2 separate regions of the Homo sapiens genome follow, and region 1 is linked to region 2. The links come from fine-mapping of genetic effects on gene expression. Tissue or cell type: whole blood. Region 2 holds a variant in brackets; the other region holds the start of a gene. All regions are shown on one strand. Distances are between the middles of the regions.

Region 1 (16,145 bases), 22 kb before region 2:
TAGCTCTCCCGTGCTGCTAGACCCTTCCTCATGCCCCTCAAGCCTGATGTGGCATCTTCTGTAGTGCGATGAGCCCATCCTTGGGGTACAGCTTTCTTTCCGGTTACTGCCCCGTCTGTATCCCCCATCCCAGCCACAGCTCTTCACTCTGTCCCCTTTCCTGAGTCCTCACACGGTGCAATCTGGCTTCCCTACTATCATCCCAAGGACAATACCCTTGATGGAATCGACAATGACCTTACTCACCAGGGAGACGTGGATTGCAGCAACTCTGGCGCTATTTCCTATCTGGCAGGTCAACAGAGACACAGTGGCCCACACTCTTCATTCTCACACACTGCTGGGGGTAACCCCTAGGGAAGGAAACGTGCTGATGTCAAGCAAACCTGCAAAAAACATTTGTTCTTTCCTAGAACCCACTTCTAGAAATCTATCTCAAAGGTACACAAATACTGAAAGACACGTGTAAGATGATTCGCTGTGGCACTTCATATAATCGCAGAGGATTGAAAACACCACAAGTGACCATCAGTAGGGGATTGGGTGAATAAACTATGTGATAGCTTTAAGGTTGGTGCAAAAGTGATTGCGGTTTTTGCCATTACTTTCGATGGCAAAACCTGCAATTACTTTTGCAGCAACTTAATAAATAACAAAGAAACATGTAGCCAGGAAAAAAAAACCCCAAACCAAAACCAAAACAAAGAACCCCTGAAAAGATTTCTAGGTATTCAGAGAGATTATCTCCAATAAATTTAAGTGAAAAAAAAATCAAGGTACAAAGCAATGTCATGTGTCCTTTTTATAAGACGAGAAAGCCTCCTTTCTCCAGATTTATAGAATAAAACGTAACTCCATAAAGCCAGCTTCTGGAGGTTTCCATGTGTGACCTCCATGACATGAACCCAAAAGATAAAAGGAGTGAAGGGTGTGAATGGGCAGGGATGGGGGCACTGGACATTCAGGGTGAGTTCGGGTTCCGTCAAAAAATCAAGTTGGAGGGAGTCTTTGGCTCTTGGGCCTCTGTGGTAGACAGATGATTAACTTCCTGCTCTCCCAAGAAAGGGGTCTGTGTTCTAATCCCCAGAACCTCTGGATCTACTCCCTTACATGGCAAAAGGGATTCTGCAGCTGTGAGGAAGGCAAGGATCCTGACATGGGGGATGATGCTGGGTGGGCCCACTGTGATTACAGGGGTCCTTATAAAAGGGAAACAGGAGGGTCAGTTCAAAGAAGGATGGGATGAGATGAGAGAAGAAGGGAGCGTGTGTGTAGCAGGGAGGAGATAACATACAGAGAGACTGGAAGATGCTGCCCTGCTGGTGTTGATGATGGAGGAACAAGCCACAGTCAGGGAAGGCTGGTGGCCTCTACAAGATGAAAAACGCAGGAAATGGGTTCTCCCCTAGAGCCTCTAGAGCAGTGGTCCCCAACCTTTCTGGTACCAGGGACTGGTTTCGTGGAAGACAATTTTTCCATGGAGCACGGGGCGGCAGTGGGGCTGGGCAGGGAATGGTTTCAGGATGATGTTTTATAAGCACATTACATTTATTCTGCACTTTATTTCTATTATATTACACAGTAATATATAATGAAATAATTATACGACTCACCATAATATAGAGTCAGTGGGAGCCCTGAGCTTGTTTTCCTGCAACTAGATGGTCCCATCTGGGGGTGATGGGAGACAGCAACAGATCATCAGGAATTAGATTCTCCTAAGGAGTGTGCAATCCAGATCCCTCACATGCAAAGTTCACAATAGGGTTTGGGCTCCTATGAGAATCGAATGCTGCCACTGATCGGCCAGGAGGTGGAGCTCAGGTGGTAATGCGAGCAATGAGGAGTGGCTGTAAATACAGATGAAGCTTCGCTCACCTGCCACTCACATCTTGCTGTGCAGCCCTGTTTATAAGCACTGGTCCGTGGCCCAGGGGCTGGGGACTCCTGCTCTAGAGGGAATGCAGGCCTTCCAGCTTATTGAGGATTTCTGACCTCCAGCAAGGCAAGAGGATAAATGTGTGTTGTTTTAAGTCCCTGAATTTGTGGTAGTTTGTTATAGCATCAATAGGAAACTAACATGCCTTTCACATCACACCTTCCCTTTGGGTGAGTTCAGCAGACCCAGGCAACTGCTGCAGAACTTCCCTACCCTCTACAGGGGGAAGTATCTCCTTTTTCCCCGTAACAGACCTAATGTGCAGGTAGGCACACAGTAGTTCCAGTCACTGAGCTGGGGAGTGAGGGGGGGTTGGCCTCCAGCCAGCTCACTGGGCCTCCAAGAAAAAAACAAGTAGAGAAGGTACCTGGGACATTTTCAGGCCCCAAGTCCCTATTCAAGGCTGTCTGGAAGCAGAAATTTCCCACTAGGACAGGAGGGGTCTCTTCAGTTTACAGATCCTGTGACACCTGCCCTGCCCTGGATACAGTGCTGGAGGATGGTCACAGCAGATGGGCCACTCTATGTCAGCTGCCCAACACAACTTCTGGTGATGATGGAAATGTTCTATAATTCTGCTCTAATACTTGAAATGTGACTAGTATGGCTGAGAAAATAAATTTTATTTTTTTTGGGAGCAATCATCTGATTCCTAAACTACCTCCAAACACCCCCTCTTTTGCCTCTTAAATGTCTTCCTTCTGAATCCTGAAGTCCTTGTTATCTGCATGCTTACACTACATGCAAATTGCATCACCCTCTGGCCCACAACTCTTTAGTGTCTTCCCACTGGCCTGAGAACAGAGTCTGAAGTGAGGCCTAGTATGGTTCTGCCTCCCTCTTGATCTTGGTCTTGGTCACACTTCTTTCCCTATTCTTTTTTTTTTTTTTTTTTTTTTTTGAGGAGTCTCACTCTTACACCCAGGCTGAATGCAGTGGTGCAATCTCTGCTCACTGCAACCTCAGCCTCCCAGGTTCAAGCAATTCTCTTGTCTCAGCCTCCCGAGCAGCTGGGACTACAGGTGTGCACCACCACACCCAGCTAATTTTCGTATTTTTAGTAGAGACGGGGTTTCACCATGTTGGCCAGGCTGGTCTTGAACTTCTGACATCAGGTGATCAGCCCACCTTGGTCTCCTAAAGTGCTGGGATTACAGGTGTGAGCCACTGCGCCCAGCTTCTTTCCCTGTTCTTGTCTCGGCTTCAGCCATCCCTGTGTTCCCAGTGCAGGGAGCGTGGCAGCCTCTCTCCTGCTGCAGGGCCTTTCCTTACACAGCTTCTTCGACGGCAGTGCTCTCTTGGACATAACCCTGTCCCCTCACTCTAGTCGAGCCCTATGACTAGCTACATCTGACCCCAACTTGGAGATGGAGCAGCAATTCCCTTTTTCAGGGGCCTGTGAACCCCAAGTGGGAAAATAAAGGAAAATCCTGAAGTTCCTTTAAGGGAAATTCCGAGCATCCAGCTAGCCCCAAAAGTAAATATGGAACTTGTTAAACAGGAAGGTAATAGTAACCTAAAACAACAGCCAAAGAAGTTAAGGCTCCAGAGATGTTCGCTTTCCCCATGGAAACTAAAGATAACATCTTAACATGCGTCCCTGAGTTGCCTTTCAGAGGCTGGGACTCCCACTGAGGACCCCACCAAATGGAGCTGCTGGCTCAGAGACCCCAGATAAGCGGGACATGAAGGCTGAGCTTCAGCGTTCTTTGTGCTAAGTTTCTTCTTGAGGGGCTTGGAGAAAGTCACTTCTCCCAGCCAGTTAACATTTTCCTACTGACTCTAAATTTTTAAACAAAGCTTCTTTTCTTTAACCAATTACAAATCAGAAAAATCTTTGAATCTACCTATGACAAGCTCCTGCTTCAAGACATCCTTGCCCTTTTAAGTCTAAACCAGTGTGTAACCTCCATGTATTGCTTTATGATTTTGCCTGTAGCTTCTGCTTTTCTGTAACTTACCATTGCCTTCAGAAATCCTTGCCTAGCCGGGCACGGTGGCTCATGTCTGTAATCCCAGCACTTTGGGAGGCCTAGGCAGGCGGATCACCTGAGGTCAGGAGTTTGAGGCCAACCTGGCTAACATGGTGAAACTCTGTCTCTACTCAAAATACAAAAAATTTGCCAGGTGTGGTGGTATGTGCCTGTAATCCTAGGGACTGGGGAGGCTGAGGCAGGAAAATCACTTGAACCTGGGAGGCAGACGTTGCAGTGAGCTGAGATCGTGCCATTGCACTCCAGCCTGGGTGACCAAGTGAGATTCTGTCTCATTAAAAAAAAAAAAAAGGCCGGGTGTGGTGGCTCATGCCTGTATCATCTCAGCACTTTGGGAGGCTGAGGCGGGTGGATCACGAAGTCAGGAGATTAAGACCAGCCGGGCCAACATGGTGAAACCCCGTCTCTACTGAAAATACAAAAATTAACCGGGCATGGTGGTAGGCGCCTGTAATCCCAGCTACTCAGGAGGCTGCGGCAGAACTGCTTGAACCCGGGAGGCCGGGGGTTGCAGTGAGCTGAGATTGCAACACAGTACTCCAGCCTGGGTAACAGAGTGAGACTCCATCTCAAAAAAAAAAAAATTCCTTGCCTAAAAGCCACTGGGGAGGCCAGGATTTGAACATTTAATGTCTGGTCCTCCTTGCTTAGTGCTGTGCAATAAAAGCCTTTCTATCTATCGTAGCAACCCTCAATATAGACATCTGGTTTCACTGCACCACCAGGTGAGCAGACCCCAGTTTGGTTCTGTAACAACTTAAGCTCTCAAGCTAAATATCCTTCCCAAGAAAGCTTCCCTGTTCCCTCTGATCAAGTTCACTAGTGCCAAGCTCCCACATCACTCCTGTCATTCATGGTTTAAAATTTATCTTCCCTGTTAGAAGGTAAACTTTATGTAGGACAGGGGCCATTTCAGGTCCTCCAGGGTCCCTGTGCATCTGACCTAGGACCTGACTCATGGAGGCGACCTGGTTTGCCAAGGATTGTCCCGGTTTGAACACTGGATGCCCTGTGCCCTAGCAAACCCCTTGGTCCTGAAAAAATGAGGATGGTTGGTCACCATTAACTGTGCACTCAAATAATATCTATTGCATGATAAGTAAACATTCCTTCAAGAATGCTGTAGGAAAGCTAGAATGGAAAAGGTGAACACACACACAATTAGTAGAAACCCCACAATTTAATACTAGATTACTTAACATGATTCTCTGCAATATGAATCACCATACTGTTATTTCAGAGAAGTTTTAAGAAACAAAGTTAATTCCTATTAGGAGGTGATATCGTTGGCTCTGTGTCCCCCCACCCAAATCTCATCTCGAGTTGTAATAATCCCTATGTGTCAGAGGAGGGTCCTGGTAGGAGGTGACTGAATCATGGGGGCGGACTTCCCCCTTGCTGTTCTCCTGATAGTAAGTTCCCACAAGATCTGATGGTTTAGAAGTTTGGCGTTTATGTCTTCTCTCTCTCTCCTGCTGCCATGTAAGACGTGCCTTGCTTTCCCTTTGCTTTCTGCCATGATCGTAAGTTTCCTGAGGCCTCCCCCGCCATGCAGAACTGAGTCAATTAAACTTCTTTCCTTTGTAAGTCACTCAGTCTCAGGGAGTTATTTATAGCAGTGTGAAAACTCTCAGGTAGTTCTTTATAGCAGTGTGAAAAAGGACTAATACAGGAGGCAAGGTGCAGAGGACAATCTTTTTGGAAACCAGTTCCCTACCCTTCAATCTATAAGTTGTTGCTTAATATTCTTCCAAATGTTTTCAAATCTCATTAGGAAAAAAAAAATCCCATTACTCAAAACACATCTGGTCGCCGGTCAATTTAATTTTAAATTTGTTACTAATAAATCATCCTTTTTACAAATGCCCTTATATTTTGAAGTTTGGTGGAGGGCCAATATGCCTTTAGAAATCAAATCAACAGCTGGGTGCGGTGGCTCTTGCCTGTAATCCCAGCACTTTGGGAGGCTGAGGTGGGCGGACCACTTGAGGTCAGGAGTTAAAGACCAGCCTGGCCAACATGGCAAAAACCTGTCTCTACTAAAAATACAAACAAAATTAGCTGGGCGTGGTGGCACTTGCCTGTAGTCCCAGCTACTCAGGAAACTGAGGCAGGAGATTTGCTTGAGTCTGGGAGGTGGAGGTTGACATGAGCCAAGATCGCGCCACTGCACTCCAACCTGGCCAACAGAGTGAGACTTGGTCTCAAGAAAAAAAAAAAAAGTCAAATCAAACAGGCCTGAAAAATGTTGCTAAGTAGTCCTGCTAGTTGTTAGTGGGAAGACTTGTAACACTACATATACATGTAAATATTTTCTATACTTATATAAAATTCAGAAACTTTTAGCATTACGGCATACCAGAAAATCTGTCTTTAGCTACAGTTACACATCTTTACGTTATTTGTATGTTTGTTTTGTGGATACTTATTTGCATGTAACTGTATTTACTTATTTACACACATGTAACCATAAACACCTCTGTCTTTTTACCTTGAACTTTCCTTAAGATACCTTCACTCTTAGTGACTTCAATGTGGTTACAACCCCAGCACAGGAAAAGCCCACGAGGAGTTCTTCTACACAGCAGAGCCTGCTGAAACCTTGTTGTAGGTTCCACACTGTACTCACCTGGTCACCCAAAAACCCACAACAACAGGTGGACCTTGTGGCAGGCTTCAACACGAATCTGAGCTTGAATGATGCTTTTCTCATCTGAAAAAAAAAAAAAGACACAAAGATTTCTTTCGAGGCTTTGTATAGGTTGTACAGTTGTTGGATACGGCTGCCGGAAACACCATCCCATTCACTTTTTTTGGGTACTCAATGATTAAATGTGTAATAAGGGCCCAGCCTGTGGGCCATGACTGGCTTTACCTGATTCCCATCTGGCCATCTGCTCCGTAAGAGGGGAGAAAGCAGCTTAACGCTGTGTGCATTTGACTTGCTCAACTTACTACGCTGGAGAGAGATTCTATGGTGACTCCACAGGCTTTAAAAATATCTTGTCACTTAGAGGCCCTATTAAGTGACTAAACTGAATTTTTAACAATTTATGTAGTTTATTCAGAACTGCAGAGATTTTTTTTTTAAGGCCCTAGAGCAGGGTTTCCCAACCTGGCACTACTGATAATTCTTTGTTGTGGGGGACTGTCCTGTACAACGTAGGATCTTTAAGAGCAAGCAGCGTCCCTCTTCCCCGGCCTCCACCCTCTAGGTGACAGTAGCAGCCTCCCCTCCCCACAATTTGTGAAAACCACAGTCGTCTCCAGCTACAGCCAAAAGTCCCCTGGGGTGCGGAATCGCCCCGGGTGAGGGCGACTGGGGTTCCCTGAGGAGGCAACAGCGGCGCGGGGCCCCGACCCAGGAGCAAGCAGCAGCTTCGTGCTGACCTAAGCTCACAGCCCGAGGCCTCATGAACCGAAACACGGCTCCCTGGAGGGACGCAGGGCCCGTGGCTGGCGGTGTCCGCGGCCCACGTCGCCCCCTGGACTCGGACCCGAGCCCCCGCCAGTCGCTCACCGAGCCCGGCCCCTCCCGCGGGGCCAAAAGCGCCGACTCGCGGGGACGGAGGGACTCGCTCCCCGCTGCCCCACGCGCGGCCCCTCCCACGGTACCGCCCCGCGCTTCCGCTTCCGGTCTGGGGAGAGGTGCGCTGCACGTCCCCTTCCGGCTCGCGCGGGCAGCCTCGCAGAGTCGAGCGTGTTGGGGGTTCGGCGCTTAGGCGACAGGCGCGGCGGGCGGGAGCGGCGGCCGCGAACCCCAGCCTTGGGCAGAGGTGTTCTAGTTTGCTTAGTGGGCACAAAGTTGGGCCCTGGCCTGGGGCAGTAGCGGGGGTAAGGTTGGCCCTGGGGGCGGGGCCAGGCTGTGAGCCGCACGAGGCCTGGGGGCGGGGCTGGTTGTGGGCGGAGATCAGTTCCGGGGCGGGGCTGAAGGCGGGGAACCGGCTGAGGCCGTACCAGGCCTGGAGGGCGAGGCTGATTGGGCAGAGACCAGTTCCAGGGTCGGGGCTGTGGGTGGGGCCCAGTTCTCGGGGCGGATGGTATAAGGCTTCTAGAGCGGGGATGACTGAGCAGAGACCAGTTACAGGGGTGGAGACCTCCATTTCCGGGGCGGGGCTGAGCGGGAACCAGGCTGTGGTTGTGACAGCCCTGGAGGTTGGGGCTGGCTGTGGGCGGAGATAAGCTCCGGGCCGGGCGGAGGGCGGGGACTAGGCTGTGGGTGTACCGGTCTTGGAGGGCAGTGGTGATTGGCAGAGAGCAGTTCTAGGGGCGGAGCTATGGGGTGGCAGCAAGCCTGGGGGCGGGGCTGACTGTGGGCGGAGACCAGTTCTGGGGGCGGGACTGTGGGCTGCACCAGGCCTGGGGAGGGGGCAGTGGGTGGAGACCAGTTCCAGGGGCAGGGATCTGGGTATGAATAAAAGGGTGTATGATGTGGGTGGGTTGGGATAGGCCCAGGAGCCAGGATTGTGGGAGATCAGATTCAGGGGTAGGGCCTTCCTTGGATCCCTAGATTGTTGATACAGTTACTGCCCCATGTTCATACAACCCAATAGGATCAGATTATGTATGCACATTTGTCTATAACTTGCTTTCCCAAGGCAGAACATAGTGATTTAACACTAAGAGTTTAGGGGAGCAGGAGAGGACTGGGTCATAGATACACATATAGGAAAACTTAAGAATGGTACAAAGTCAGTCAAATATTCTCCCACCACGGTCTTTCAGTTCTTTTGCTCAGAGGCAAAAATAATTTTCTCCTCTATCTTTCCAGATATAGTGTGGACATGTATGTGTGTGTATGTGTGTATGCCGTAGTCATATTCATGGAATAAATGCTATTACCTCCCCCCCAACAAGTCTCTGTTTTATACACCATGGATATAGACTGAACAAAATAGGTAAACGTCCTTGCCCTCAGAGAACGTGCATTTTAGTTGTGAGTTGGGCAGGAGAAATGGACAGTGAATGTGATAAATAGAATACATGGTGGGTTGGTGCGTTAGATACCACTAAGTGCTGGTTGGACCTGGTGGCTTACGCTTGTAATCCCAACACTTTGGGAGGCCGAGGCAGGCAGATCACCTGAGGTCAGGAGTTCGAGACCAGCCTGCCAACATGGTGAAACCCCGTCTCTACTAAAAATACAAAATTAGCCGGGCGTGGTGGCGGATGCCTTGTAATCCCAGGTACTTGGGAGGCTGAGGCAGGAGAATAGCTTGAACTCGGGAGGTGGAGGTTGAAGTGAGCCGAGATTGCAGCCGGTGCACTCCAGCCCGGGTGACGAGCAAGACTCCATCTCAAAAAACAAAACAAAACAAAAACCAAAAACCATAAACAAAAAAAGATACTGGTAAGTGCAAAGGGAAAAAATTTTATGTAAGAGAGTGGTAACATTTAAAATCAGCCAGGAAGAAATACTTTCAATGAATGATATTGTTTCATGCACCCGTCCTTTCAGAAAAAAATAGTTAGATCTCTGCTTCCCAAAAATATCCATTTTCAGGTGGCTGAAGGAAGTTTAAGCAAAAATGAACAAGTTCAAAATTCAATATACTAGGAAAGTTCACTGTGGAAAGACTGTTCTCTTCAACAAATTGTGCTGGGACAACTAGATGCCAATATACAAAAGAATGAAATTGGGCTGGGCGTGGTGGCTCACGCCTGTAACCCCAGCACTTTGGGAGGCTGAGGCAGGCAGATCACGAGGTCAAGATATCGAGACCATCCTGGCTAACATGGTGAAACCCCGTCTCTACTAAAAATACCAAAATTAGCTGGGCGTGGTGGCGGGCGCCTATAGTCCCAGCTACTCGGGAGACTGAGGCAGAAGAATCGTTTGAACCCAGGAGGTGGAGATTGCAGTGAGCCGAGATCACCCCACTGCACTCCAGCCTGAGAACAGAGCGAGACTCCATCAAAAAAAAAAAACAAACCAAAACCAAAAAAAAACAAAAAAAAAACCAACCAACCAAGAAACAAACAAAAAACAGAGAATGAAATTGGACCTCTACTTCACACCATGTACAAAAGTGAGCTCAAAATAGATCATAGACCTAAAGGTAAGAGCTAAAACTATAAACTTCTTGGAAGAAAACATAGGTGTCAAACTTTGTGATCTTGGGTTAGGCAATTGTTTCTTAGATATGACATCAAAAACAGGTGGCGAAAGAAAAAATATATAAATTGGACTTAACATTAAAAAACATTGATGCTTCAAAGGACACCATCAAGAAAAAAGACAAACATGGACTGGGTGAAGACATTTACAAATGATTTATCTGATACATGACTTGTATTCAAAATATATAAAGGCTTGCGACTCAGCAATAAAAAGATACCCAATTAAAAGTGAACAAAGAGTTTTTTTTTTTTTTTCTTTTTGAGGTGGAGTCTCCTTCTGTCACCTAGGCTGGAGTGCTGTGGCACCATTTTGGCTCACTGCATCCTCTGCCTCCTGGATTCAAGCGATTCTCCTGCCTCAGCCTCCCAAGTAGCTGGGACCACAGGCGTTCACCACCACGCCTGGCTAATTTTTGTATTTTTAGCAGAGAGAGGGTTTTGCCATGTTGGCCAGGCTGGTCTTGAACTCCTGACCTCAAGTGATCTGCCCACCTTGGCCTCCCTAAGTGCTGGGATTACAGGTGTGAGCCACTGCACCCAGCCTGAAAAATGAACAAAGAGTTCGAATCGTCATTTCTACAAAGAAGATACACAAATGGCAAATATATACATGAAAAGATGCTCGGCCCCATTAATCATTAGGGAAGTTAATATCAAAACTTCAATAAAATACTACTTCACACCCATTGGGATAATTAAAATTAAAAAGATAGCCAATAACAAAGATTGGCAAAGACAAGGAGAAATTGGAATTCTTATACATTGCTGTCAGGATTGTAAAATGGTGCACCCACTTTGCAAAATAGTTTGGCAGTTCCTCAAAAAGTCATAGAGTTGCCACGTGACCCAGCAATTTTATTTCCAGTATATGCCCAAGAGAAATGAAAACATGTGTTCACATGACAGCTTGTACATGAATGTTCATAGCAGCATTATACATAATAGCCCAAAATTTTGTATGTCCCAAATATCAGTCAACTGATGAATGGATAAATAAAATGTGGTATATCCACACAACGGATTATTATTCATCCATTAAACAGAATACATATTCCATGGATGAACCTTGAAAACATTACGGTAAGTAAAAGAAGCCACTCATAAAAAACCCACATTTTGTATAATTCAATTTAAATAAAATTTCCAGAATAAGAAAATCCAAAGAGACAATAGATTAGTGGCAAATGTTGGGGAAAAGGGAAATGAGGGGAAGTGGGTAATGGTATGGATTTCATTTTAGATGAAAATAAGATTAGATAGTGGTGACGATTGCGCAACTGTGTGAATGTACTAAAAACCATTTTACACAAAAGTGTAAAAACTGTACACTTTAAAAGGTTGAATATTATGGTAGCTCAATAAAGTTTTTATTTAAAAAATGTAGAATTATACACATAAATTCTTCAGTTAGGCATAATAAGAGAATAAAAGTGGAAAAATAAAATACTACATAAATATGAGTGCTTCTTCCTCAAAATAATAGAAGAAAAGTGGAAAAAGTAAAATACTACAAAAATGTGAGTTCTTCTCTTCTTCCTCTTCCTCCTCCTCCTTTCTTCCTTCTTCCTTACTCCTCCCCTTCCTCCTCCTCCTTGTCCTCCTCCTTCTTCTTTCTTCTTTCCTCCTCCTCCTTCTTCTCTTCCTTTTCCTCCTCCTCCCCCCCTCTCCTCCTCCTTCTTTCTTCTTTTTTCTTTTTTTTTGGAGACAGGATCTTGCTTTGTCACCCAGGCTGGAGTGCAGTGGTGCAAACATGGCTCATTGCAGCCTCGACCTCCTGGGCTCAAGTCATTCTCCCTCCTCAGCTTCCCGAGTAGCTGGGACTGCAGGCGTGCACCACCACGCCCAGCTAGTTTTTGTATTTTTTATAGAGACAGGGACTCGCCACACCACAGAGGCTAGTCTCGAACTCCTGAGCGCAAGCAATCCCTTTGCCTTGGCTGCCCAAAGTGCTGGGATTTTAGGCATGACCCCATCGTATCCAGCTTAAGTGTATCTTAATTTTCCACACCATCACATTATTAAATGGCAAAACAAACTGGGGATAAATAATTGTAAAAATCTATGACATGTGGGCTCATATCATTATTACATAAAGAATATTTTGGATAAATAAGCAAAAGATGAACAAGCCAGTAAAAACATCATCAAAGACAAAGGCTATGAACCACACACTCCTTTACAAATACATACAACTGCCCAATACTCTAATTAGCAAAGAGGCATAAATTAAAATAATGGCATTATGTTTGTGCCTCTCAAGTAATGCAAAACATTTTAAATGGCCAGTTTGTCAAGACATGAAGAAATGAATGACCTCGCCCTCTGCTAGCAGCATTGATAAGTACCAGTTTCTCAGCAGGTACTTGGTAACATATACCCAAAGCTGTACGAATGTGCATATTTATCAACCCAGCAATTTTACAGTGATCTAAATCAGAGAAATGTTTGAACCTTGTTAAAAAGGATTGATCATCTACCTCCTATTTAATATGACAGAAGATTAGTAACAATGGCAAAATAAGTACTGGTGTAGCCGTATGAAATGACATTCATGGGCCTTAAAACAACAATGTCAATGTACATTTAGTTATATTAAATTACAATCGGGATATATTGTTAGATGTGAGAAGCTGGCTGCAGAATGAAGTCGGCAGTGTGTATCCATGTTGTAACCCACAAAGTCTAGGAATATAAAATTCCAGGGCTCGACAACCACTTAATGCCTGGACCCTTTCTGCCTCGAATGGGGGTGGCTAGAAACTTCTCTGGCTGGAGGGCAGAAGGCAGAGTGCAAAGTTTTGCCTCAAGCCTTGTGACAGGGATAAAGACCCTCACCCTTCACACTGGCCTCATGGACAAGACAAGTTCTTGCTTTCCCACAGAGTACCTGAGATCTGAGGATACTTTATACTCTGATAGTCACTTCCGGCTACCTTAATTCTGCTAGAGTAAAAACAACTAGTAGCTTCCACCTAACCAGATGACGCATAAAATAATTGCTACTAAATATTTCATTCCATATTTTGGTTAGTAAGGAAGAGAAGGAGGTAAAGAAACTTGAAGTGAAACAACTGGAAGGGACCAAGATGGAGCAGGCAGAGTTCCTTATACACAGGAGACAGCAAGGCTGAAATTCTACCCAGAAGATCAGCAGCCCTGGCCAGGCACGGTGGCTCACGCCTGTAATCCCAGCACTTTGGGAGGCCGAGGCGGGCGGATCATGACATCAAGAGATTGAGACCATCCTGGATAACATGGTGAAACCCCGTCTCTACTAAAAATACAAAAAATAAGCTGGGCGTGGTGGTGCACACCTGTAGTCCCAGCTACTCAGGAGGCTGAGGCAGGAGAATCGCTTGAACCCAGGAGGCAGAGGTTGCAGTGAGCCGAGATCGCATCACTGCACTGCACTCCAGCCTGGACGACAGAGCAAGACTCCATCTCAAAAAAAAAAAAAAAAAAAAAAAAAAAAAAAGATCAGCAGCCCCACTATCACCTTCCTCCAGGGCAAGGCCACCTGTGGAAATGACAGATGTCAAATAATCCCCAAAGGAATTGCTAAGGATGGAGATGTCCCATGGAAACAAACTGCATATTGCCTAACCCTCTCCCGAGGACATGGATATATTGAGATAGTAAATGTTTTGAAGGCTATGCAACTCTGCAAACAACCAAGCATGCACAGAACACAGGCTGTCTGGTGATAACTCCTAGATAAGCACCAATATAGCACCTCAGCCACAGATGGCATGCCACACACAATGAATTCTAAAAGTCTATTTTAACCTGCGATGGCCAACATATTCTCATGTGTGCATGCAATCAATGTAAAAATTATTGAGACGTTTTAGGTGCGACTGGCTGGGGCTGGCATTGTTGGTGGTAAAATAATTTCCCAAGACAGTCGTAGGTAAAGAAAGACAGATTTATTAGAGAAGATATGAAGATAGGTTGCAAGGATGCAACAGGCAGCACAGAAGAGAAGGGGCCATTTGCAAAGAGGCAGAGGTTGGAGGGGATTTTATAGGGTCGTGCTGGAGGCGGCTATGTGCACGTGAGGTGTGCAGATAAGGTCGTGTTCCTGGGACTATGTGCAGACCGAGGTCTTTTGGAACAGAATGTCATGCCAGTGGGTTGTTTGCAGTTAGCCATCTCTCAGAACAATTGTTCTCCCCCAACCAGGGGCCCTTTCCTTGTTGTTGGTTACTTATCTTATTAGGACTCCACATGAGACCTTTTAAATGATTTTTGTTTTTTGTAATGAGTTCCAGAAATCCAGTTCGTACTTTCCACTGATGGCACATCTCAATTTGCGAGTTGAATGTTATCAGATGTACTTGCCCCGTATTTAGATTTTCTTTTTTTTCTTTTCTTTTCTTTTTTTTTTTTTTTTTGAGACAGAGTCTCGCACTGTCGCCCAGGCTGGAGTGCAGTGGCGCCATCTCGGCTCACTGCAAGCTCCGCCTCCCAGGTTCACGCCATTCTCCTGCCTCAGCCTCCTGAGTAGCTGGGATACAGGTGTGTGCCACCACACCCACCTGTATTAATATTATGGCTAATATTTTGTATTTTTAGTAGAGATGGGGTTTCACTGTGTTAGCTAGGATGGTCTCAATCTCCTGACCTCATGATCTGCCCGCCTCGGCCTCCCAAAGTGCTGGGATTACAGGTGTGAGCCACCGTGCCTGGCCATATTTAGATTTTCTAGGGTTCACAGCTGTAAAGTAAGATTCACATGTCCAGGTTGTTCCAAGCATACTTCAAAGCTTTCCACTTCAAGAGTCATGTCAGATGAATAATGAGAATTCCTTTGGGATCTAACAACAAAGGGGTCATTGTGGCCTTAGCAACAGAAGCAGCTGAGAACGGTGAAGGAAAACAGAAGTTTGGGGTGGCCTGAGGAGTTGCTGGAGGTGAGGAGATAGGAGACATAGATGTAGATGATCTTTTCTCAGTGGTTCATAGCTAAGGGGAAGGGATAGGCAGTAGTGGTGAAGGAGGGGGTCCCAGGAAGTTTAGGAGAGGAGTGTCTGTGTAGCTCGGAGAAACTTGAACATGTTTAAATGCCGAAGAAGGGATTCAGTAGAAAAACAGAAGTTAAAGATATGGGGGCATCTGTAATCCCAGCACTTTGGGAGGTTGAGGCGGGCAGATCATGAGGTCAGGAGTTCGAGGCCACTCTGGCCAACATGGCGAAACCCCATCGCTACTAAAAATACCAAAAAATTAGCTGGACATAGAGGTATGTGCCTGTAATCCCAGCTACTTGGGAGGCTGAGGCAAGATAATTGCTTGAACCCGGGCAGTGGAGGTTGCAGTGAGCCCAGATCATCCCACTGTACTCCAGTCTGGGCTATAGAGCGGGACTCCGTCTCAAAAAAAAAAAAAAAACAAAAACAGATGATACAAAGGTTACATTGCAATATTGGAAGCATAAAATTAACAAAAAGGAAGAAGGAATGAGGCTCAGATCACTCTTGGTGGATAAAGGAAACATATTTATGTATTTATGAGACAAGGTCTTGCTCTGTTGCCAAGGCTAGAGTACAGTGGCCTGATTGCCGCTCACTGCAACCTCGACCTCCTGGGCTCAAGCTATCCTCTTCACTCGGCCTCCCTCACTCAGCTGGGACCTCAGACATGTATCATCACCCCCAGCTAACTTTTTAATTTTTAGTAGAGATGGGGGTCCCCCTACGTTGCCCTGACTGGTCTCAAACTCCTGTGTTCAAGTGGCCCTCCCGCCTCAGCCTACCAAAGTGCTGGGATTAGATGTGTGAGCCACCATGCCTGGCAGGAAATCTCTTTAAATACAATTAAAGGAAATTTGGAAACATTCAATGCTTATCAGGGATATTTGCAGATTTGGCAACTAACGTCTTTGGGAACCATCAGGTAAGTTAAGGAGAATTAAATATCTATGAGGAAAAAAGAAAGCTGGAGAAAATTTTGCAACAGGTTTTGGGGAAAATCAAGGAGTAAACATGACAGTGCATACACAGAAAATAAAGTTTCTACGCATGATGGATTCTTCCCAGTTGATGGAGAATATTTTGTATTTATAGTGGCACTAAGACGTCATGTCACGTGAT
Region 2 (16,145 bases):
TGTTCTTGAACTCCTGACTTCAGGTGATCCACCTGTCTTGGTCTCCCAAAGTGCTGGGATTACAGGTGTGAGCCACCGTGCCCAGCCTCCATGATGGCAATTTCTGTATCAGTGAAACAGGAGGATTCCCTGAGCTCCCTTGCAGGACATGTGACAGGGGTGTGGCTCATCTGTTTGGCTGCTGGGTGCACTCAAACCCCTTATGGGACGGGGAGCACACAGACAGGCAGGTGCAGGAGCCGGGGCCAGTGTCCCTGGGCTCTGGCCCCATGGCAGCATCCACAGGTGGGAGACTGCAACTCCCAAAGCCCAAGTGGCTGTGTGTTACAGTGTGCTCCTTAGCCTTGCTGTCTGTGGATGGCTCAAGTGTTAACCAGCTCAGTGCCCTCTTGGTACCCAAGTCCTTGTCCAGCATCCAGGAAGAATCAGGTCACACATAGACTTGAAGGATGAATGCCAGGGTTTTGTTGAATGGGGGAGGTGGTTCTCAGTGGGATGGATGGGGAGCTAGAAGGGGGATGGAGTGGGAAGATGATCTTCCCCTGGAGTTTGGCTGTCCAGTGGCTAGTCTCCTCTCTGACTGTCCCCAGTTGAACTCCTTTCGGCATTCAGATGCTCCTTCTCTTCTCTCTGCTGTGTCGTTCTGCCATTCTTCTGCTTGTGGAGCCTGGGGTTTGAGGTTTATATGGGTATAGGATAGGGGAGCATGGTGGGCCAAAAGGTGACTTTGGGGCATGAAAACAGGATTGTCTGTTCCCATTTAGGGCCACAGGTCTCCAGGCTTGAGGGTGGGGCCTTTGCTGGGGAACCTCCCTCTTCTACCCAGTATTTCCCTGTCTCCTGTCCATATCATCAGTAATGTAGTTTGGATATGTGTCCCCACCAAATCTGATGTTGAATTGTAATCCCCAGTGTTGGAGGTGGAGCCTGGTAGGCGGTGCTTGGGTCATAGGGGCAGATCCTTCATGGTTTGATGCTGCCTTTGCAACAGGGAGTCTGTACTTGTGAGATCTGGTTAAGTGTGTGGCACCTTTGCTCCCCCCAACTCTCCCTTGCTCCTGCTCTGGCCATGTGACATGCTGGCCCTCTCTTGTGACATGCTGGCCCTCCCTTGGCCTTCACCATGATTGGAAGCTTCCTGAGACCTCTCCAGAAGCTGATCAGATGCTGACATCATGCTTCCTGTACAGCCTGCAGAACTGTGAGCCAATTAAACCTCTTTTCTTTAAAAATTACCCAGTCTCAGGTATTTCTTTTTTCTTTGTTTTTTTTTTTTTTTTTTTTTTTTTTTTTTTTGAGACAGGATCTCACTCTGTCATTCAGGGTGGAGTGCAGTGGTACAATCACAGTTCACTGCAGCCTCAACCTCCCAGGCTCAGGTGATACTCCCACCTCTGCCTCCTGGGTAGCTGGGACTACAGGCACGCACCACCATGCCTGGCTATTTTTAAAAATCTTTGTAGAGACAGCATTTTGCCATGTTTCCCAGGCTGGTCTCGAGCTCTTGGACTCAAGCAACCTGCCTGCCTAGGCCTCCCATAGTGCTAGGATTACAGGCGTGAGCCACCGAGCCTGGCCAGGTATTTTTTTTTTTTCTCTTGTTCTTTTTTTGAGACAGAGTCTCGCTCTGTCACTCAGGCTGGAGTGCAGTGGCGTGATCTTGGCTCACTGCAACCTCTGCTTCCTGGGTTCAAGTGATTCTCCTGTCTCAGCCTCCCAAGTAGCTGGCATTACAGGCGTGGACCACCATGCCTGGCTAATTATTGTATTTTTAGTAGAGACAGGGTTTCACCAAGTTGGCCAGGCTCCGGTCTTGAACTCCTGACCTCAAGTGATCCACCCGCCTGGGCCTCCCAAAGTGCTGGGATTATAGGTGTGAGCCACTGCGCCCGGCCAGGTATTTCTTTATCACAGTGCAAGAACAGCCTAATACAATCATTTTCACCAATTCTGGTGTTCCCAAGGGATGACATGGTGCGAAACCACAACACACAACTGAGAGTTGCCTTTGGGACTTCACGAAGGTGGAAGACTGTTCTCTTAGTCCAACATGAACCAGTCAGGGGTCACGTCAAGGAAGGCTCAGAGACTGTGTCCGACCAATATGGTTTATTTCTGCCCCAGCCAAGCTTCTTTGGACCCTGGCTGGGGGAAAGGCACCCCAGGCACCGGCAAGTTCCAGTCATTGCAGATCCTCCAGGTCTAGGTGTGACTGGTAGTAGCCTGGGCACTGTTGCTGGACGTTGTATTCTCCTTCCTTCTTCCGCCGGCGGGTGGTCACCTATGAGGGTGAGGAGGAGGCGTGAGAATGGACTGGTCAGCCGTCCAGGGAGAGGAGACCACAGGGGTGAGAATATGGCCAAAGCCAGAGGCCTTATGCTTCCTCTGTCTCCCTTCATTGTTTCATTTAATTTCTCCCTCAGTTCTTTTCCTCTTTTCACCACTTTCTTTTCTTCTGTCTCCTTGTTTCACTCTCGGTTTAAAAAAATTTTTCCCCCTCCGATATCCCCTTCATTTCTCTCTCCTTTTGCCTCTGAATTTCTTTATCAATATATCACATATCTACCAATGATCTATTTATCTATCATCTAGCTATCAATATTTATCAACCTGTCAATCAATTATCTACCAATCAATAACCATCAATTATCTCTCACCTCTCAATCATCTCCTATTTATAATCCATCAATCATCTATCAATCACCTGTCATCCATCAATCATGTATTTATCATCTACTTATCAATATCTATCAACTATCTGTTACCTATCAATTTATTATCTACCAATTATCTATCAAAATAATCTATTTATCATCTACCTATCAGCTATCCACCAATCATCTGTCAACTATCAATCATCTATCGCCTGTCTTCTGTCTAAATACCATTTCTCTCTCATCTCATTCTCAGTCTCTTTCTCTCTGGCTTTTGGTCCTGATCTCAGCCCCCTCTCTCCCTCCCTTCCTCCTCTACATCTGTCCAGCTTAACTGAGGCATAACTGACATAAAATAAACTGCACACATTTAAAGTGAATGTTTTGATAAGTTCTGATCATAACTTATTGAATCGTCACCACAATCAACATAAGGAACATCCATCCATCATCCCCAAAACTTTCGTCCTGGCCAGGCATGGTGGCTCACTCCTGTAATCCCAGCACTTTGGGAGGCCAAGGCGGGTGGATCACCTGAGGTCAGGAGTTCGAGACCAGCCTGGCCAACATGGTAAAACCCCGTCTCTACTAAAAATACAAAAATTAGCTGAGTGTGGTGGTGCGCATGTGTAATCCCAGCTACTTGGGAGGCTGGGGCAGGAAAAACGCTTGAACCCGAGAGGCAGAGGTTGCAATGAGCTGAGATCGTGCCATTGCACTCCAGCTTGGGCGATAGACTAAGACTCTGTCTCAAGAAAAAACAAAAAAAAAACAACAAAAAAACTTTCTTCCTGCTCTTTTACAATTCCTTTTTCCCTGCCACTGCAAACACATTTTCATTCCCAGGCAACCGCTGATCTGATTCCTGTCCTTACAGATTAGTTTGTATTTTCTAGAATTTGTCTATTAAGGGAATCATATGGCATGTACTCTTTTCTTCATCTGGATTCTTTCACTAGGCATAACTATTTTGCAATTTATACATGTTGCTGTATAATTTATTAATGTATTAATAATTCCTTTTTGTTGCTGAATAATATTCCATTGTCAGGATATATTTGTTAATGGACATTAGGGTTGTTTTCAGAGTTTGGCTATTACAAACAAAGCTGTTATGAACATTTACTTGTGTACAAGTCTTCATATAGACATATGTTTTTATTTCTCTTAGATAAATTACTAGTAGTGGGATGGTAGGGTCTTACGGTAGGTGTGTGTAATTTTCAAAGAAATGGCCAAGCTATTTTCCACTTTCACTTTATGAGAGTTCCAGTTCTGTCACATTTTCACCAACACTTGTTATAGTCAATCTTTTCAATTTTATCCATTCTTGTGAAAAGTGGCCTCTCATTGTGACTTCCGTGTACATTTCCCTAACGACTAATTTTGTTACATTTTTCCCTCTTACATTATTTTATTTACACTCTTTGCAATCACTTTTTCTCTCAATATCTTGTAATCAGCATATAGGTTGTGAAGTTTTTGAGATCTGCATAACATAGTAACTATAGTTAATAATAATGTAGATTTCAAAATTGCTAAGAGTATAGGTTGCCAATGTTCACACCACAAAGAAATAATAAGTATGAGAGGTGAGGGACATATTAATTAGCTTGATTGAGTCATTCCATAATTGTACATATACCAAAGCATCACATTGTATCCCCTAAATATATGCATTCATTATTTGTCAATTAATTAAAAATAAAATTATAAAAAGAAAATAGGAAAGCCACTCCGTGAACTGGGAGAAAATATTTGCAAAACATATATCCAGCAAAGGACTTGTGTATAGTATAGTATGGTTTTATAATATATTAAGAACTCTTACAACCCAATTGTTAAGAAGACAAGCAACCCTTCCTTGCTCACCAGGACACCGCAGATCAGGCATGTGATGACTCCCAGGAGTCCTGCCAAGCCGATGAGGATGACAGCCCAGAAGGGAAGGTCTGGGGAGACAAGGGCTGGGGTGAGCCACCTCCTGCCACGTCCCAGGGCTCCTTCTTGGACCCTATGTGGCCTGAGGATGGGCACAGCCCTGGGGAAGAGAGCTTAGTGGCTCAACACCTCATGCCTCTGATGCCCCCAAAAACTGGGCCCCCAGAAAGCCAGGATCCCTGCTATCCCTTTACTATGCCTCAATAGTCTTTGCCATGGGTTGGCAATTTTGATCCTCATCCAAGACTCTGTGTGCCTGGTGCTCTTGGACAAGGCAAAGCACCATCAGGCTACCCCCTCCCTACCCTGGGCTGGGGCTTCTTTGAGACTTACCAGAATTCCCAGTTAAGGGCTCATTTCTGTTGGGAGAATACCCTAGAAATGAAAGAAATGGAGGGTGCATGTGAGTGTGTCTTTTTTTTTTTTTTTTTCTGGAGATGGAGTCTTGCTCTGTTGCCCAGGCTAGAGTGCAGTGGCGTGATCTTGGCTCACTGCAACCTCTGCTTCCCGGGTTCAAGCAATTCTCCTGCTTCAGCCTCCCAAGTAGCTGAGATTACAGGTGCCCGCCAAAATGCCTGGCTAATTTTTGTATGTAGTGATGGAGTTTTACCATGTTGGCCAGGCTGGTCTTGAACTCCTGACCTCATGATCCACCCACCTCGGTCTCCCAAAGTGCTGGGATTACAGGCGTGAGCCACCGCGCCCGGCCAAGTGTGTCTTATTCTTTTAAATACAATTTTACAAGCGTACAAAAAAGCAGAGAGAAGAGTATAATAAATATGCATCACCTAGATTTAGTGGTTTATATTTCCTCCAACTAAAACATATACATCCAATTTATGATTTATTGACATTTCAGTGAAAGTAAATGTTTTCACTGAAGTTTTAGAGGCCAGTAGACACCATGACATCTCACCCCAAATATTTCAATTTGTATCTCTAAAAAAATGACACATGGCTACATAAGCCCAAAGCCATTATTCCACCACAAGAGTGTCATAAGTTAAATTCATGCCTCTGGGCATGGTGGACCTAAATTGGGCTGGGCCCAAGGGCAGTGGTGGAGAGAATGGATCATCGCAGTTGGAAACTGATGGGACCTCTCTAAGTTTTAAAATTTTCACCCAAAAGGTTTTTCTTCTGCCTAAAAACACATTTAAGCTCTCCTTCACTTGGTGGTTTTATCGTCATCTTTTAGAATTCACCTTCAATGTCATTTCCTCCAGGAAGCCTTCCCTGATGACCACACCCATGTATGAATAGGTTCACATCAAATAATTTATAATTGACAACTGCCTGTTCTTGTTATTCCTCACGACAGCATAAACTCCATGAAGACAGGGATGTAAAGCCATCATCAGGCATGGCGAGAAGGGTTACTGGTTCCTCTACTTCTACAACCCTGTTATAGCCAACTTTTTTTTTTTCTCAAGATAGAGTCTCACTCTGTCACCCAGGCTGGAGTGCAATGATGTGATCTCGTCTCACTGCAACCTCCGCCTCCTGGGTTCAAGTGATTCTCCTGCCTCAGCTTCCTGAGTAGCTGGGATTACAGGCGCACCACCATGCCTGGGTAATTTTTTGTATTTTTAGTAGAGGCAGGGTTTTACCATGTTGGCCAGGCTGGTTTTTAACTCCTGACCTCGTGATCCGCCTGCCTCGGCCTCCCAAAGTGCTGGGATTACAGGTGTGAGCCACTGCGCCCAGCCCATAGCCAGCTTCTTAAAGATGTAGAAGACATACCAATGGCTAACAAGCATATGAAAAAATGCTCGACATTACTAATAATCAGAGAAATACAGATTAAAACCATGATGAGATACCACCTTACGCCAGTCAGAATGGCTGTTACTAAAAAGACAAAAAATAACAGATGTTAAAAAGGATGCAAGAAAAGTGAACCGTTACACACTGTTGGTGGGAATGTAATTTAGTATAATCTCTATGAAAAACGTGGAGATTTCTCAAATAACTAAAAATGAAACTACCATTTGATCCAGGAATCCCACGACTGGGTATCTACACAAAGGAAAATAAATAATTTTGTCAAAAAGACACCTGAACCTGTGTGTTTATCACAAAACTATTCACAATAGCAAAGATATGGAATCAACCTAAGTGCCCATCAATGGAGGACTGTATAAAGAAAATGTGATCTCTCTCTCTCTCTACACACACACACACACACACACACACAATGCAATACCACCCAGGCATAAAAAAGAATGAAATCATGTCTTTTGCAGCAACATGGATGCAAGTGAAGGTCATTATCTTAAGTCAAACAACTCAGATACAGGAAGTCAAATAGCACATGTATTTGACTAAATAATGCATAGACATGTCAATGCTAAATAATGCATAGGCATGGACATAGAGAGTGGAATAATAGACAGTGGAAACTTGGAAGGGTTGGGGAGTGGAGGAGAGTGGATGATGAGAAATTACTCAATGGGTACAATGTACATTATTCAGGTAATAGATACCCTAAAAGCCCAGACTTCCCCACTGGGCTATAAATCCATGCAACAAAATTGTACTTGTGCCCCTTAAATATATACAAATAATAATTTTAAAAAGTAGTGTGCAATATGGAGCAGCCACAAGTGGCTTTTTAAATTAAAATTAAATAAAATTAAAACTTCGGTATCTCAGTTACATTAACCACACTTCAAGCTTAGTAATCACACATGGCTTTGTGCTGAATAGCACAGATAGAAACATTTTCTATCACTGCAGAAAGTTCTATTGGATGGTACTGATTCAAGGCAAGGTTTGGCAAACTACAGCGATGCTGGGTCCATGGCCTGTTTTTAGAAAGCTTGTGAGCTGACAACAATTTTAATTAAAAAAAAAATTGGGGCTGGGTGTGGTGGCTCACGCCTGTAATCCCAGCACTTTGGGAGGCCCAGGTGGGCAGATCACGAGGTCAGGAGA[T/C]CGAGACCATCCTGGTCAACATGGTGAAACCCTGTTTCTACTAAAAATACAAAAAAAATTAGCCAGACATGGTGGCAGGCGCCTGTAGTCCCAGCTACTCAGGAGGCTGAGGCAGGAAAATGGCATGAACCCAGGAGGCGGAGCTTGCAGTGGGCGGAGATCGTGCCACTGCACTCCAGCCTGGGTGACAGAGCGAGACTCTGTCTCAAAAAAAAAGAAAAAATAAAAACAAATAAAAAACAAAAACAAAACAAAACAATAACAACAAACAAACAACAAACAAAATTGGTAAAACAAGAAAAAGAAAAACCTGTGACAGGCATGTGAAAGGCTTGTTGATTCTGAAGGATCAACAGTGCTCTCTTGCACAACAATAATTCGGAATCAAGGACAGTGCACACAGGCATTGGAAGGTCCCGTCTAAAACGTTATTCGCATTTGACTTGAAAAGAACCTTGTATGAAATCTAGTTATTCCTTCTGCAAATATGACTTGAGTGTTTATTATGTGCCAGGCAGAATATGGGGTTCTTGGAATATAGTGGTGAAAGAGCAAACAGTTACTCTCTGTTATATTCCTGATACATGGTACAATGTATATAACTATTCTTTGAATGGGTAAAATTGGATATGCAAAGTTGAGCCACCTTGAAGCCATCTCTGGAGTTGGAAAATAGGTCCATCCTACCACATTTGTTGAGGATGAATCACATACAACTTGAAACTGGAAGCCCTCATTGACCTGCTGAGGCAGGAGGATCACTTGTGGCCAGGAATTAGAGACCAGTCTGGGCAACATAGTGAGACCCTGTCTCTACAAAAAATTTAGAAATTAGCAAGGCGTGGTGACACGTGCCTGTAGTTCCAGGTACTCAGGAGGCTGAGGTGGGAGGATCGCTTGAGCCCAGGAGTTCAAGACTGCAGTGAGCTATGATTGCACCACTGTACTCCATTCTGGTTAACAGAGCGAGACCCTGCCTCTAAAAGAAAAAAACAAACACAAAAAACCAGAACCAGCTGCAGTGGTGCCTGCCTGCCTGTAATCCCAGCACTTTGGGAGGCTGAAGCAGGTGGCATGCTTGAGCTCAGGAGTTCAAGACCAGCCTGGGCAATGTTGCAAAACCCCATCTCTAGAAAAAATACAAAAATTATCCGGGTGTGGTGGCGCATGGCTGTAGTCCCAGTTACTTGGGAGGCTGAAGTGGGTGGATTGCTTGAGTCCAGGGGTTGAGGTTGCAGTGAGCTGAGATCATGTCACTGCACTCCAGCCTAGGTGACAGAGTGAGACCCTGTCTCAAAAACAAACAAACAACACAACAACAATAACTAATCAGGGTAATTGTTTAACACTGCAGCTGCCTGGGGGTGGAGGAGCAATACCATCTAGGGCAGGCAAGATGGGAACCAAAAACCAAGTGGCTTGCTAAGTACAGAGAGATAAGAAGTCCAGAAAGGAGATGTGACTAGCCTGAGGTCACAGAGCTGGCCAGAAGAGGGCAAATGCCTCCCATATCCCTCGGGCGTCCTTTTCTTTCCTTCAATGATGGGTAAAGCTTAGGAGAACTAAGCCACTTTCTCCCAGTCTGAGAAAGCTCGATGACGAATCAACCCCAAGCCTTCAGATTCCCAGGGAAGGACCCAGGTGAGGAAGTGGGAGCTTCCACCTCAGTCCCAATGACCCAGGGAGCTTTACCATCCACAAGGACACTGCTCCTGTCCAGGGTGAAGTTCTGCAGCTGGGTACCATTCCGGGTCATCCGCAGAAATTCCTCATAGATGGCAACTCTGTCTACTCTCCGAGCCAGTGGCGAGAAGTTACACAGGGAGTCCACCCCGGTGTGGTGCCTGTTGGGGACAGACCTGGAAGGGGACAGGGATAAGCAAAGATATCTGCAATTTTATCATGATTCTAGGCTTTCTCCTTCTAGGCTCTTCCTGCAGAAACTTTCTGCAATGATGTAAACATTCTATGTCGGCCGGGCACAGTGGCTCACGCCTGTAATCCCAGCACTTTGGGAGGCCCAGGCAGGCGGATCATGAGGTCAGATCGAGACCATCCATACAAATCACGAGGTCAGGAGATTGAGACCATCCATACAAATATTAGCTGGGTGTGGTGGCACGTGCCTGTAATCCCAGCTACTTGGGAGGCTGAGGCAGGAGAATCACTTGAATCGGGGAGTAGAGATTGCAGTGAGACGAGATCACGCCACTGCACTCTAGCCTGGTGACAGAGCGAGACTCCATCTCAAAAACAAAACAAAAAACAAAAAAAAAATTCTACATCTGCACTACACAATGCAGCCATTAGTAGCTTCATGTTGTTATTAAATGCTTAAAATGCAGCTAGCGTGGGAGAAGAACTGAATTTCTAATTTTATTCCACTTAATTCATTTAAAAATAGCCACAGGGAGGTCAGGCACAGTGGCTCATGCCTGTTATCCCAGCACTTTGGGAGGCCAAGGCGGGTGGATCACTTGAGATCAGGAGTTCGAGACCAGCCTGGCCAACACAGTGAAACCCCATCTCTACTAAAAACACAAAAATTAGCCGGTGTGGTGGTGCACATCCATAATCCCAGCTACTTGGGAGGCTGAGGCAGGAGAATCGCTTGAACCTGGGAAGCGGAGGTTGCAGTGAGCTGAGATTGCGCCACTGCACTCCAGCCTGGGCAACAGAGGGAGACTCCGTCTCAAATAAATAAATAAATAAATAAATAAATAAATAAATAAAGTAATAGCCACAGGGAGAACATTTCTGGAATGTTGGGGTAACAACTTCTGAATACCCATAAAATCAATGAGAACATTGGCCAAAATAGTCCAAATCAATTTTTCCAGAAGTCTAGAAGTGAACCAAAGGCTTGCAAAAATTCGAGGGGTGTTTAGTTAAGGAAAGTGTTAAATCTCAGTAAAAAGAGCAAGCTTTGTGGCATTTTAACTTGCATTATTTCCACAGTGCTCTTTCAAGATCCTCAGTATTTTATTATTATTATTATTTGTTTTTTTTTTTTTGAGACAGGCTTTGGCTCTGTTGCCCAGGCTAGAGTGCATGGCACAATGTCAGCTCACTGCAACCTCTGCCTCCTGGGCTCAAGCCATCCTCCCACCTCAGCCTCCTAAGTAACTGGGACTACAGCACATGCCACTATGCTCAGCTGATTTTTGTATTTTTTGTAGAGATGGGTTTTCACCATATTGCCCAGGCTGGTCTCAAACTCCTGAGCTCAAGCGATCTACCCACCTTGGCCTCCCAAAGGGCTGGGATTACAGTCGCAAGCCACTGCATCCAGCAAGATCCTCGGTAACTTTGAAAACTGGCAGCCTCAGAATCATGATATCTGTGAAAACCAGCTGCCTAGCAGTCAAAATAGCTGTAGAGTTCTCCAGACATCAATCTGCAGAACATAGTCACTATTTGATCTGTTTGGCAGCTCCTTGAAAAAGCCCTATTCTCAGGGCTTATCTTTATTTGTTCTGATTCAGAATTTGTTTAGTGAGGAAAGCCTGTTCTCAAGGCAGTTGTCAAAAAAAAAAAATCATTGGTACCCCCCACCATTGGAAATGATACCTCTCATTGAAAAGCACAGTTAGGCTGCTAGATTCTAAGTAATCTGGTTTTAGTCCCCTCCTTCCCCCGTCTTCCATGGGTCCTGATTTCAGTAGCTGATGTCTTAATGTAGTAGATTCTACACTCTAGACTCCATGGCCTCAGCACCAGGTACCTTTATGTCTGCTGAGATTTACACCAGCTCTCTTGAGTGTTGAAGCCAGTTGGGCTCCAGCTTTAGGAAAAAGCTAGTTTTTAGTTAACAGCTCTCTATTTCTAGGGCTCTCTTCCATCAAAGCTATGGCTTGGGGACACTTCTATTTAAAGGACAGCAGAAGTTCCTAGAGTCATTAGGTCCTGAGTTAGAACTTACCTGAATGTTGAAACTTGACAGTCAGAAAAATAACTCTTGATGCTGCTGTTTCGGAAGAGTTGGTTGAGCTGAAAGACAGGGCGATGTTTCTTAGGTCAGAATCCTGGCCCCAGTAGCATCAGAGAATTTTCAGCCACTGAGCACACTTCTCCGTCTATTTTGCTTCTTGTCATGACAACCACTTGCCCAGGTATGTATATCAAAGGACATGCTCTTCTAGGGTATGACTTAGCTGTGTGACCTTGGGTCAGCTACTGAACCTCTCTGTGCTTGTGTATTAAATGGGAATAAGAACCTGTCTTTGTGGATTGTTATAAAAAGTCACCCTGTGGCTACCCAGTATGCATAAGTCAGTTTCTGCATGGCAACAGAGTGGACATACCACCCCCTTCTCACCGCATCCTCAATATTCCTTTTGTTCCTCTGGTAATTGGTGGTGCCTGGCTGGGCTTTGTCCTGGGAATATGGTAGGTTGGTGATGGTGAAATTCAGGTAGAAGTGCTGGGTGCTGGAGCTGCTTGTTGGTTGATAAACTGATGACTCCATTTCTAGAATTAAAAAAAAAGTATGTAAAAATCCACTATCAAGGCAGGGTTTTAAGAAAGAGATGATTCCAGCTAGCTTACTTATTCCTGACAGTGTGAGCTGAGCTAGGCTTTTCTTTTTTTCTTTTCTTTTTTTTTTTTTTTTTTTTTGGCAGGGGGGTCATTTGTTTTGTTTTTTGAGACAGTTTCACTCTCTTTGCCCAGGCTGGAGTGTAATGGCGTGATCTTGGCTCACCACAACCTCCACCTCCTGGGTGCAAGCCATTCTCCTGCCTCAGCCTCCCGAGTAGCGGGATTACAGGCATGCGCCACCCTGCCTGGCTAACTTTTTTTTTTTTTTGTATTTTTAATAGAGACAGGGTTTCTCCATGTTGGTCAGACTGGTCTCGAACCCCCGACCTCAGGTGATCCACCCGCCTTGGCCTCCCAAAGTGCTGGGATTACAGGTGTGAGCCACCGCGCCTGGCTGAGCTAGGATTTTAAAGGTGGGATGGAGGGTTTTAGGTAACAGCTCTATATTGGATGGAGGATCTTCCTCCATCCATCTGTCCAGCTTGTATCCATCCACCCATCTACCTGTTCAATTCTCTTTCTACCAAGCATTGTAAGAATTCTCTACAACATGGGGGAAAAGAGACTGGGTTTCTCTGGGGGTGTAGTCAGCAATTGCAGGTGCTGAGAAACCCAGAGTCTTCTAACTAATGATCATTGTTCCTAAAGGGTCTTCTTGCCTTTGCTCTTCTCTCCCCCCACCCTCCATTCTGCACACAGCACCCAGAGGATGAGCAGAATTCATTTCATTTTCTTTCTAAAGCAGAACTCATGAGTGTGTCATGTTCCTCCCCAAGCCATTCCAGTGCCCAACAAAGTCTCTGCCCACATCTTTGGCTTCAACTGTCACCTCTCCAGTATCAAAGTGGATGCTCCAGCTACACCAATCTTCTTAAACTTGCCCCAAAATGCCACTTTTTTTTTTTTTGAAATGCAGTTTTGCTCTTTTTGCCCAGGCTTGAGTGCAATGGCACAATCTCGGCTCACTGCAACCTCCGCCTCCCGAGTTCAAGCAGTTCTCCTCTCTCAGCCTCCCAAGTGGCTGGGATTACAGGCACGCACCACCATGCCTGGCTAATTTTTGTATTTTTAGCAGAGATGGGGTTTCATCATATTGGTCAGGCTGGTCTTGAACTCCTGACCTCAGGTGATCCACCCATCTCAGCCTCTGAAAGTGCTGGGACTACAGGCGTGAGCCACCGCACCCGGCCAGATGCCATATTCTTTCTATCTTCTAGGTTATAGATGCATGGAGCACAATTCTCCATCTATTACCCCTGGCTAGGTCCCATTCTCTGTCAGATCTCAGCTTCTTCACCCCTTCCTACATAAAACTTTCCAAGACAAGGTTGTGTGTTCCTCCTTGGGGCTCCCACAGGCCCCTGAAATTCCCTTATCATAGCAATGATCACACTGTGTTATCAGTACGTGTTTACTTCCATTGTTTATTTATTTTTTATTTTTATTTATTTATTTATTTTTGAGACAGAGTCTCCATCTGTCGCCCAGGCTGGAGTGCAGTGGCGCGATCTCGGCTCACTGCAAGCTCTGCCTCCCGGGTTCACGCCATTCTCCTGCCTCAGCCTCCCGAGTAGCTGCGACTACAGGTGGCCACCACCATGCCTGGCTAATTTTTTTTGTATTTTTAGTAGAGACAGGGTTTCACCGTGTTAGCCAGGATGGTCTCAATCTCCTGACCTCGTGATCTGCCTGCCTGGGCCTCCCAAAGTACTGGTATTACAGGCGTGAGCCACCATGCCCGGCCTACTTCCATTGTTTATTGAATGAATGAATTATTCATTTACTGATTCATTCATTTAATTGATCATTTTAATTGATCAATTAATCAATTAAATCAATTCTCAATTACATCAATTAATCAATTATGTACTGAATCATTTATTATTCATTAATTAAATGAATGAATCAATAAATTGATTCAAAATAAATGATCTATTGATTCATTCATTCAACACAATTCTTTTTACATGTAAAAATAGCTATTCTCTTAGATGCAATGGCTGGTGTTCTGTTCCTGCCTCGTTGGATGATCTACTGCCAGAGGTCACCTACATGGGTCTCCAGAAAGCCTCCCTTTCCCTCTCTAGAGCCTCCACCAATTCCACTGGTACCGAGAAGCCCCATCTTTCCTCATAACCCCACCTCTTCCAGTTAGGAAACCAGCCACCCCACCTTGTACCTGTCACATGGATGTCCACCAACTGGTAGGTGGAGCCCAGCCAATGGAATGAGGCATTCAGGGTCTTATCTAGAAAGACTTGCTCCACCAGGCTGGGGTCCAAATTGGAGGAGAACAATGCCTTGACAGTGACCAACACGGAGTCCATCCTAGGGACAGAGACCACAGGAATTCAGCCAGTACTCAGCATCAGCAGGGTCATCGGTTGCTGTCTTTAAAGAGCAAAAGATCTAGAGGCACCCACCCTCAGTCTAGAGAAGGGTTCTGATCAAAATGGGAGGCCTTCGGCTGGATGCAGTGGCCCAAGCCTGTAATCTCAGCACTTTGGGAGGCCGAGGCAGGCAAATTGCCTGAGGTCAGGAGTTCGAGACCAGCCTGACCAACATGGCAAAACCCTGTCTCTAATAAAAATACAAAACTTCACCGGGTGTGGTGGCGCATGCCTGTAGTCCCTGCTACATGGGGGGCTGAGGCAGGAGAATTGCTTGAACCCAGGAGGCAGTTGTAGTGAGCCGAGATCATACCACTGCACTCCAGCCTGAGCAACAGAGCATGACTCCATCTCAAAAAAAAAAAAAAAAAAAATGCTTCCAGGAATTACGTCTAGAAGCAATAACAGTAACAATAATCGATATTTATTGAACACTTTTTATAGATCAAGACCACTAAGAAGTGACTTATGCATTCTTCATCATCACTCTGGTGGAAGGTATTGTTAAAATTATCCCAATTTCTCCCACATTTTCCCTCTTGATTTCTACTTTTTATTATTTTATTTTATTTTTTGAGATAGAGTCTCGCTCTGTCACCCAGGCTGGAGTACAGCCTCCTAGGCTCAGGCGATCCTCCCACCTCAGCTTCCTGAGTGGCTGGGACTACAGGTGTGTGCCACCATGCCTGGCTAATTTTTGTATTTTTTGTAGAGACTAGGACTCCCTATGTTGCCCTCGCTGGTCTTGAACTTCTGGGCTCAAGAGATCCACCTGCCCTGGCCTCCCAAAGTGCTGGGATTACAGGCATGAGCCACTGTGCCCAGCCTACTTTTGATTTTATTTGTTTTTAATTTTTTGGGGTACATAGTAGGTGTTTTTATATTTATGGGGTATATGAGATGTTTTGATACAAGCATGTAATGCATAATAATCATCAGGGTAAATGGGGTATCCATCCCCTCAAGCATATATCCTTTGTGTTGCAAACAATCCAAGCATACACCTTTAGTTATATTTTAAAATGTACAGTGAAGTTATTTTTGACTACAGTCACCCTGTTGTGCTAGCAAATACTAGGTCTTATTCATTCTTTGCATTTTTTTGTTCCAATTAACCTTCTCCATATTCCCAGCTGAAATACAAAAATCTTTGAAGTTTAGAAATATACAAAGTCAGCCCTGTGTCCTGTGACCCTCCTCTTCCCAAGTATAGGTATCTTCATTCCTTCATCCAGTCATCAGAGACCTGGGTTCAAATCCCAACTTTGACAGTTCTTGGGAAGTTCACTTTTCTGACCCTCAGTTTTCCCATCTGCACAATAGGGATGATTTTTGCACTCAACTCATAGATTCTGTTGTGAGAATTAAATGAGAGGAGGCTGGTTGATGTTAAATATTATTATTGGGCTAATATTTTGAGTTCTACATCAAAAAGTTATATTTTCCCAAGTGTCCAGAAAAAAAAGAAGGTGTATGCTGGGAGTTGGTGGCCCCATGAGGTTAATCCTCACTCCCTACCTTGAGGATTTATGGGAGGAGATGGTAGGATTAGCTAGACAGGGATGTAGGGGAGAATGGGTACCCCACTGGGGACGTCTAGCTCAAGGGTGCTCAGAGACACAGCCACAAGCTTGGTCACTGCTTATGACCTTCAGAACTTACGTCAAGTTGGTGACCAGGCAGA

The links. PIP is the estimated chance that this variant, and not a neighbour inherited with it, causes the effect.
Region 1: ZNF558 starts here. The variant in region 2 is fine-mapped to the expression of ZNF558 in whole blood (TOPMed, PIP above 0.99).

The regions. Positions count from the first base shown.
Region 1 is chr19:8,824,756-8,840,900 of GRCh38, forward strand. It overlaps ZNF558 (zinc finger protein 558), which reads right to left and starts at 7,549. Exons shown (of 10, transcript NM_144693.3): 1 at 7,454-7,549; 2 at 6,563-6,646; 3 at 247-353. It overlaps MBD3L1 (methyl-CpG binding domain protein 3 like 1), which reads left to right and starts at 7,622. Exons shown (of 3, transcript NM_001393532.1): 1 at 7,622-7,767. RefSeq lists silencers at 7,329-7,598, 8,099-8,358.
Region 2 is chr19:8,846,750-8,862,894 of GRCh38, forward strand. It overlaps MUC16 (mucin 16, cell surface associated), which reads right to left. Exons shown (of 94, transcript NM_001414686.1): 87 at 16,124-16,145; 88 at 14,251-14,399; 89 at 11,851-12,002; 90 at 11,455-11,522; 91 at 9,225-9,391; 92 at 4,929-4,970; 93 at 4,527-4,606; 94 at 2,095-2,281. The coding sequence ends at 2,183. Among named protein-coding and RNA genes, the nearest start is that of MBD3L1, 22 kb to the left of the region's middle. The variant T/C (reference allele first, on the strand shown) is at 7,533.